Linked DNA regions of Homo sapiens: region 1 is linked to region 2. Evidence: fine-mapped expression QTL. A gene starts in region 2. The other region holds a variant in brackets. All regions are shown on one strand. Distances are from middle to middle. Region 1 has its middle 62 kb from the start of LRFN5-DT. Region 2 holds the start of LRFN5 (leucine rich repeat and fibronectin type III domain containing 5).

Region 1 (4,393 bases), 75 kb before region 2:
AGTGTGATGTGGTATCTAATTGTAGTTTTGATATGTAGTTCCCTAATTTTTAGTGACTTTGAACATTGCACAATTTGTTGAACAATATTAATTGGGTTGCTTTTTGTTGTTGTTTAGTTTCAAGAGTTCTCTGTATATTCTGTATAATAATACGCTGTCAGATATATAATTTCCAAGCATTTTCTCCCATTCTGTGGGTTGCCTTTTCACTGTGTTGGCAGTGTGTTTTGATGCATATTTTAAAAAAAAATTCCTTAGGTCAATTTATCTACTTTTTATTTTGTTTTCTGTGCCTTTGGTGTCATATTCAAAAAATAATTGCAAGACTAAATGTTTTGAATTTTCTGTCCTATATTTTATTCTAAGAGATTTTTAGTTACAGGTTTTACATTTAGATCATAGATCATTGAGTTCATTTTTATATATGGTGTTACGTAAGGTCCAACTTTATTCTTTTTTATGCGAACATACTATATGTTTTCCCAGCAGCATTTTTTGTAAAGATTGACTCTTCCTCTTCAAATGGTCTTGGCACCCTTGTGGAAAATCATTTAGACATATATTTTAAGGTTTATTTCTAGACTCTATTTCATAGGTCTGTATGTCTCTTTTTATGCTAGTACCACACTGTTTTCATTACTATTGCTTTATAGTGAGTTTTGAAATCAGCTTGGTAGTGTGAATCCTCTAGCTTTGTTATTCCTTTTCAGGATTGTTTTAGCTATTTGGGATCCCTTGAGATTCCATATATATTTTAGTATGGGCTTGTCTAATTCTAAAAAACATGTCATTGTGATTTTTGATTGGGACTGCATTAAATCTGTAGATAGCTTTTGATAATACTGACATCTTAACAATACTGAGGCTTCCAATCCATGAACATGGATATCTTTTAATTTGTTTATGCCTTCTTTAATATTTTCAGCAATATTTTGAAGTTTTAATTATACAGTATTTTACTTCCTTGGTCAAATTAATTTCTAAGTATTTTATTCTTCTTGATGCAATTGTAAATGGAATCATTTTCTAAATTTTCTTTTCAGATTATTTATTGTTAGTATATGGAAACATAACAGATGTTTCTGTGTCAACTCTATCCTGCTACTTTGTTAAAATCCTTTATTAGTTCTGATTTGAGGGGAATCTAGATTTTTTTCTACATATGTAACTTGTTATCTATGAAAATAAATAATTTTGTTTTGCCTTACAATTTGGATTTTTTCTGCCTTATTTTATCTGACTCCAATTTCTAGTACTAAGTTGAATAGAAATGGAGAAAGTAAGCATCCTAGCCTTGTTCTTTAGTCTAAAAGAAAAGCTTTCAATCTTTCACCATTAAGGATGAGGTTCACTGTTTTTTTAATATATATATATTTCACTATGTAAAGGTAATTACTTTCTATTCCTAGATTGTTGAGTTTTTTTTTTTTTTGAAAGTGGGTTGAATTCCGAGAAATTGTTTTTCTGCATCTATCAAGATGATCATATGTTCTTTTTTCCTTCATTCTGTTAAGTCATATATTATATTGATGACTTTTATGTGTTGAACTATACTTGAATTCCAGGAACAAATTCCACTTGGTCATGGTTTATAATTCTTTTAATATGTTGCTGAATTTGGTTTTTGAGTATTTTGATGAAGATCCTTACATCAGTATTTATAACATAAATTGTTCTATAGCTTTCTTCTCTTTAACTGTGTGTGTCTGTCTTTGGTGTCAGGGTAATGCTAGACTAATAGAATGAGTTGGAGTACGTTATTTCCTTACAAAATTATTAGGAAAGTTTGAGGAGCATTGGTATTCATTCTTTATTTTGTAGAACTCACTGGTGAAACAAACAGGTCCAGGGCTTTTCATTGCCAATAAATTTTTGATTGCTGATTTAATCATCATACCAATTATATGTCTATTAAGACATCAATTTTGTTGGTTTTCACAAAGCACCAACTTTCAGTGTCATTGGTTTTCTCTATTATTTTATATTCTATATTTTTTTAAAAATCTCTGTTCTGATACCTACTATTATTTTCCTTCTGATAGCTTTGGGTTTAGTTTCATTTATTTTCTAGTGTCTTACATTTAAAGTTAGATTGTTCATTTGAGATCATTTTTGCTTTTTAATGTAAGCACTTAAAGTTATAAATATTGATTTAACACTATTTTTGCTGTGTCCCACAATTTTTGTATGTTATGCTTTGGCATGTTATGTTTTCATTTTCTTTTGTTTCTAAGTATTTCATAGTTACCTCATGATTTCTTCTTTGATTCACTTGTTTAAGAGTATATTATTTAATGTTTTAAAAATTATGAATCTTTCAGTTTTTTCCTACTGTTGATTTCTAAACCCATCCCAGTTTGTTTGGAGAAGATACTATGCAAGATATGTATTATTTTAAATATACTGAGATGTGATTTGTGGAATAAC[A/G]TATGATCTATCCTGGGAAATGTCAGCTGTACACTTGGGAAAAATGTATATTCTATTTTTATTGGATAGAGTGTTCTTATAGATCTGTTAAATCTGTTGTGTTGTACAAGTACTCTATTTTCTTACTTATCTTCTGTCTGGCTGTTCTATTATTGAGAGTGGAGTATTGAAGTCTCCAACTATTATTGTAGAACTTTTATTTCTATCTTCAATTTCATCAATGTTTACTTTATATTTCTATGATCTATTACTATAAATGTAATTGTCTGTAATTGTTATGTCTTCTTGCTGCATTAAAACTTTTATTAATATAGATGTCTTTAGTTGTCTTTTGTGTAAAATTTATTTATTTAAAGTTTATTTTGTCTAATATTAATATAGGTGCTCCTCCTCTCATTTGCTTACTATTTTTTCTATGGAATATCCTTTTCCATCCTTATACTTTCAACCTACATGTGTCTTTGAATCTAAAGTGACTCTCTTATAGACAGCATATAGTTGGGCCACGTGTTTTTACACCCTCTATTAATCTCAGGCTTTTGATTGAAATGTTTAAGCCATTTACATTTTAAGTAATTGTTAATAACTTACTTATGTCCTTTTGGTATTTGTTTTCCATATGCTGTTATTTTCCTCATTTCCTGCATTATCGTTTTATTTATTTGTGTGCTTATCTGATTTTTTTTTGTAGTTAAGCATTTAAATTCCTTTCTTATTTCATTTTGTACCTATTTTTAAGATATTTTCTTTGTGGTTTTCATGGGTATTTAACAGCTGAAAGGTATAATGCTCTAATTTGAATAATTACAAGCCTAACTTTGATAACATACCAAAACTCTATTCCTTTGATAACTCTGTTTCAGCCCATGTCAATTGTTGATGTCACAAAATTATACCTTTATAAATTGTGTCCAAAAACATAAGCTAATAATTTTAAAATGTATTAAACTTCTAAGTTATGTAAAATACAAATGTAAAGCTACCACCTAAAGTTACAATAATACTATCTTTGAAACTAATAAGTGTCTGGGTTTTGAAAAATGTATTAATTGCTTAAATCATGCAGAAAACAAAAACTGGAGTTACACACCCTTGTTACAATAATACTAGCTTTTATAATTATTCATATATTTATTTGGCTAAGATCTTTACTTCTCCTGATTGCTTCTAGTTATGCTAAAGTGTTCTTTCATCTCAACCTGCATGACTATCATTAGCATTTTTTGCAGAATATGTGTAATAATAAGGAGATATCTCAGCTTTTGTTTATCTGGTCATGTCTTAATTTTTTTCTCACTTTTGAAGAACAATATTGCCAGATATTGGATTCTTAGTTGACATTTTTTTCTTTTAATATCCAAAATAAATCATCCCACTGCCTTGTGGTCTCCAAAATTTCTGAAGAGAATTTTGCAGATAATTTTAGTGAGGTTCTGGTATATGTAATGATTCACTTATCTCTTGCTCCTTTCAAAATTAACTCTGTGGGGTTTGACAGTTTGAGTGTAATTTCTCTAGTGTGGATCTTTTTCTAATTATTCTTCTTGAAGTTCATTGTCATATTTGGATGTTTATATTCATGTCTTTCATTGAGTTTGGGGAGTTGGGGTCATTATTTATTCAAATACTTTCTCTGCCCTTTTCTCTTTCTCTTCCCCTCTTGGAACTCCCATAATGCAAATGTTGGTCTGCAAGATGTTGTCCCACAAACACCTTTTGCTATGTTCACTTTTCCTCAATGTTTTTATGTTTGTTTTTGTTCCTTAGACTGGCAATTTTTATTGTTCTATCTTCAAGTTTACTGATTCTTCTTTTGCCTGTTTACATATGCCTTTGAATTACTCAAGTAAAATTTTTATTTCATTTATTGTACTTTTCAGTTTAGAATTTCTTTCTGTTTTCTTTATATATTTTATCTTTATTGATGTTAACATTTTGTTAATGTATAATTTTCTTGAGTTTCTCA
Region 2 (4,393 bases):
AGGTAACGGAAAATCCTCATCGCCTAGACTTTCATTGGTTCCTATCAGCTCAGCTGGAAAGGGTGGCAAGTGGGACAATCCTGAAGAAAAAAGAGTCACCCCCACGTCCTAAAGTACTTGGAAGTGCTCGCTGGGATCTGCCTGTACTCCAGGTTGGTGCAACTCCACCGCCCTCCAGTGAAGTCCCAGAAGCGATCAAGTTTAAAGTGAAAGGGGGATGGAAGCATTTTTTCTCCCTATGCCTTCGGAGTCTGTGGCTTCAGTTTGCTGCAGGTTCTCTCCGTGGACTTCTCAGAAACCTCAACTTTCCACTTCGAGGGACAGAAAGCTACAAGGAAAACGCTGATGGTTTTGGTGGAGATTCTCCTGGACTTCAGTGGTGTCCTCTGGTACATCTGTCCGCGGTGTCCCTTTGGTTTATTTCTGTGGTCTTCCTGCGCAGTCCCTCAGCGGCTCGGAGTTTGGCCTTCCAGCTCTCCAACTCAGATCCTGAGCCTCCTAAGCTCCCGCGGAGACCCTGAAGTCCCGGATCTGGCGCCGCTCGCCGACCTGGAGGGAGGCTGCACCGCTGAAGTGCAGTCTCGGAGCTGCGCTCCTCTGGAACAAAGCAGCCAGACGTGGCTTGAGTGGATTCCTAAGCCAAGGATTGGATCCGGAGTACCAGGGGCAGAGAGGGGGAGCAGAGGAAAGAAAGGAGATGTGAGGAGTTTCCACCTAAAGCACTTCACTCCTCGTGTTCTTCCCCGACAGAGATAGCTGTGTGGTTCTTCCTTACGCGTGGGTGCAGGTGTGCGCGCTTGGGGTGAGCCCATGGTTGTGCTCGAGTATACGGGCGCCTGTGCACCTCCAGGGCAATGGTAAAGCCTGGCAGAGCTCTTTTTGGAACAAAATGAAGGAGCTCCATATCCACGGAGGCCACCCGTATGGGCCTTTGCCAAGTAGGGCAGAAGAAGCCCTTGTTAGCCAGCTTCCCTTTGCAACTTCCTACTCTTCCTTTGGGTACAGACTGGTGTCTGGGCTAGCTAGGATCACAGCTGAGAGCGAAGGTGCTCTCAGTGTCCGAAGACCACGTGCTGGTGAACCCACAATGAGAAGCGAAAGGGTTTCAGGACTCTAGCAGAAAGGAAGAGCAAGATTTCACTCAGGGTTTCTTAGAAGAAAGAGTTAACTTTGCTCACTGGCTTTTCCAGGATGGAGGGAGTGGGGATAGGGTCGGGGAGAGAAGCATTGGGAGTCTTGTCGGAGTCTCAAGCAAAACCAGGCGAGGGCTCCGGGCAGATCCATTCCCGCAGGGCCCTGTCTAACCTCCTTTCCAGTCGCACCTCTTTCCTGCTTTAGACCCTGCGTCTGTGCCGGTGACCTTAGAGACTAGGTCTGGCTTATGAAGACTGTTGGGCTCCCTTTCTGCCCTTCACATAGTAAAATGTGACCAACTGCAGTATTCGTAATGTCTGATGCTGAGCTGAGTTGATTCCCAAATATAAATGTTCTTTTCAGAATCCGCTCCCATCTGATTAGTAAGCAAATCACCACCCACAACTAAGGGGACAGCGGAAGCCAGCCTCAGATGACTGAAACCCCCAAGTCAGTAGCTCTCCTCAAAATTTCCGGCGGGTTATTATAGATAATGACTTTTCCCACCGCCCTAAGCAGCCGAAGCTTGACTCAGTGATGATTCTCTCTATCCCGTAACTGCGAGGAAGTGGGCGATCAGCAAATTGCCCTTTTGCAGGAGGCTGGGGACGCCCCTGGAAGTTCGCTTTCATTCTCCAGGTTTTCTGCCTTTTCCCTTCCCCCTTCCTGCAACGCCCCCGCGCCTCCTCAGCCTGGGGATTTCCTGGCGCTTCGCCGGCCCTCTCCGCAACCCCCTGATAAATCGGTTCAGAACCAGTCTGGCTGGGAGGCCCGAGGGCTGACAGCAGCGGAGCGGCCCCGGCCGGGGTCTCACGGACTCTCGGGGTCTGGCCGACACGGCCGCTCCCGTCACTGCAGCGCGGGCTGAGCTCACGGCCGCGCGCCCGCCGCCGCCGCCGCCGCCGCCTTCATGCTGCAGCGCAGGGCTCAGTTCCACGCGGCCAGGAGGCCGCCGTTGCCCACACGCGACGCTTTGGGAAGCCCAGCTCCCGGGTCCGCCCCGGCCGCGGCCGCAGCCCCGGACCTCGGCTGCTTGCCTCGCGCCTGAACTGCGGACTCGCCCCAGCGCGGTGGCCAGCGGGCGGGGCGCTGTGTTCCGCGGCGCGCAGGGAGGCGGTGAGCGTGTGCAGAGCTGCCCGAACGGAGGACTATGTATGTGTGTGCGCGTGTTTGCGTGTGTTTGAGCGTGTTTTTCCTTCTTCCCTTGAGGATGTGAATTGTTTAGCAGCTGGCTGCTCCCTTAGGATCCTTGACTTTGGGGAGCTCTGGCTGTGAACACAGCCCACCCATATAATCCATTTTGCACGGTCCGTTATATCAGAAAAAAAAAGCGCAACTGGACGGGGGTGGGGCAGACCAACGAAACCTAGACAGACACACACACACTCAGAGGAGAGAGGAAGAATTGAAAGACTTGAGAAGACTTTGATAACCTCCCTGCTGGCCCTTCTGTGTTCCGGAAAGATCCTGGATGTTGGCTACCTTTTCAAGTCATCTTGGCATGTCTCTAGTGTTTTGTAAGCCGCTTTCCAGCTAGCTGCGTGTGTGTGTGCGCGCGCGTGTGTACGCGCGCGCCTATCTGATGCATTTGACTGTCTTTTATCCAACTGCCCAGAAGCAAATGTGTTAACTCGGCGATGCCCCTTCATGCCCGGGTTCTTGCAGAGCTCTGAGGACGCCCAGACCCATTTTCCTGGCTGGATTTGGAGCGGCTGCTGGGCTGTGGACCCAGGTGTGTGGATCGCTTTACCCAGAAGCTTGGAAAGCGCCAATATTAACCTGCTTCCAGGTACATCACAAGGTCAAGAGAGTGTCTTGCAGCCCTCTTGTTTCCGTGTATCTACACCTTCTTCTCTTGGCCAGAAGGATATTTACGTTTTGGTTCACAGCATTTGAAGCCAAAAGTTCAGCCCTTCGAACTGGTTTGCTATACAAAACAAAACAAAACAAATAAGGTAATGAGGATTGCTTATTAAACTGCTTAACAAAATCCCCGACTCTTCCTCAGCCCTTTCTCGGCTCCCTCCTCCCCACCAAAATGTCACCAGCTCTTGAATTACGTGGATTCGGGTTGGAGGAGAACTTGAAGGAAACGTGATTAAAGGGCTATGCGAGAACGCTCTCTTTGCTGCCCGCGGTCCGGTGGGCTTCGAAGCCAATCGTGAGAAGGACCGGTTCCCTCCGTGCTGCTTCCTCCCCGTGCAGTGCTGGGTGTGCGTGTGCGAGTGTGAGTGCAAGTGCGCGCGCGCCCGGGTGCGAGTGTGTGTGAGTGTGAGCGTGTGTCTGTGTGTGCGTGCGCGGCCGCCCTGCCTCTGCCCGCTCCCCGGGCGCGGAGCCGCGGGTTTCATGGGGCGATTGCAGCGATTCCCCCACCCAGAGCGACCTGCGGGCAGCGGCGGCAGTGGCAGGAGCCGCCTTTCCGATTCCCTACGATGCGGGTGCTGAGCTATGGCAAAGGGCAGCGAAGTGACGAGCGAGACCCGCGTACGACTGTGAAAGCCACCTGGAGCCACCTTGCCGGGATTGTACCTGCAGGCAGAAAGTCTTCCTACGACCGTCTTTTCCCTTAGAGGCACCAGGTAACAAACCAACGATTACTCGCCTCACCCAATTTCCTTTTGATCTTGTTTCTAGTGTCTTATCTGCATTGCAGGCTACTTTACTTATTAATGTTTTGAAAATCATTGGGAAGGGTTGGGTATCCAAGGGCGCCTGCTCTGTGATTTTGTAATACGATTTCTAGTAGGTGAAATATAAATCTATACCTAAGCACTTAATCTAGTAGTGAAAGCTTTGAGAATATGGATGTGCTCCACCCTGAGGATATTTTTTGAGAGCTAGGCGTGTGGAACCTGTCTGAAGATGCCAGAGATCAAAATTCTGTGTTTCCTTCAGGCTGTGGTTGCCACGGACCATTTGGTACCCAACCCTTTCCAGATTGTGAAGTGTGAGTGGGTGTTTGGTTTCCACCCATCATTTAAACCAAAGATCTTTTCTACCCTTTTCTACCTCTGGTGCCAGGTTGTTTTCCTTTCCTTGTTGTGGAGGAGCTTGCCAGATCTTTTTAGTAGTTGTAAATTACGCATCTGGAGACTTTGACTCGAAATGGAGTTTTCTTGGAACTTGGTTTGCATGAAAGGGAATACATATTGTCACGGCTGTGTGTCTTGAGATATGGTGTTTAACTGCCAGGACGTGCTTTTATGTAGCAGAATAAATCCATGAAAGAAGTCATTTTTATATCTAGCAGAACCAGGCT

The links. PIP is the estimated chance that this variant, and not a neighbour inherited with it, causes the effect. A credible set is the group of variants that fine-mapping cannot tell apart.
Region 1: its variant is the best candidate, but not a certain one, in a credible set for the expression of LRFN5 in spleen (GTEx, PIP 0.70).

The regions. Positions count from the first base shown.
Region 1 is chr14:41,529,536-41,533,928 of GRCh38, forward strand. No RefSeq gene overlaps it. Among named protein-coding and RNA genes, the nearest start is that of LRFN5-DT, 62 kb to the right of the region's middle. The variant A/G (reference allele first, on the strand shown) is at 2,428.
Region 2 is chr14:41,604,850-41,609,242 of GRCh38, forward strand. It overlaps LRFN5 (leucine rich repeat and fibronectin type III domain containing 5), which reads left to right and starts at 2,027. Exons shown (of 6, transcript NM_152447.5): 1 at 2,027-3,713.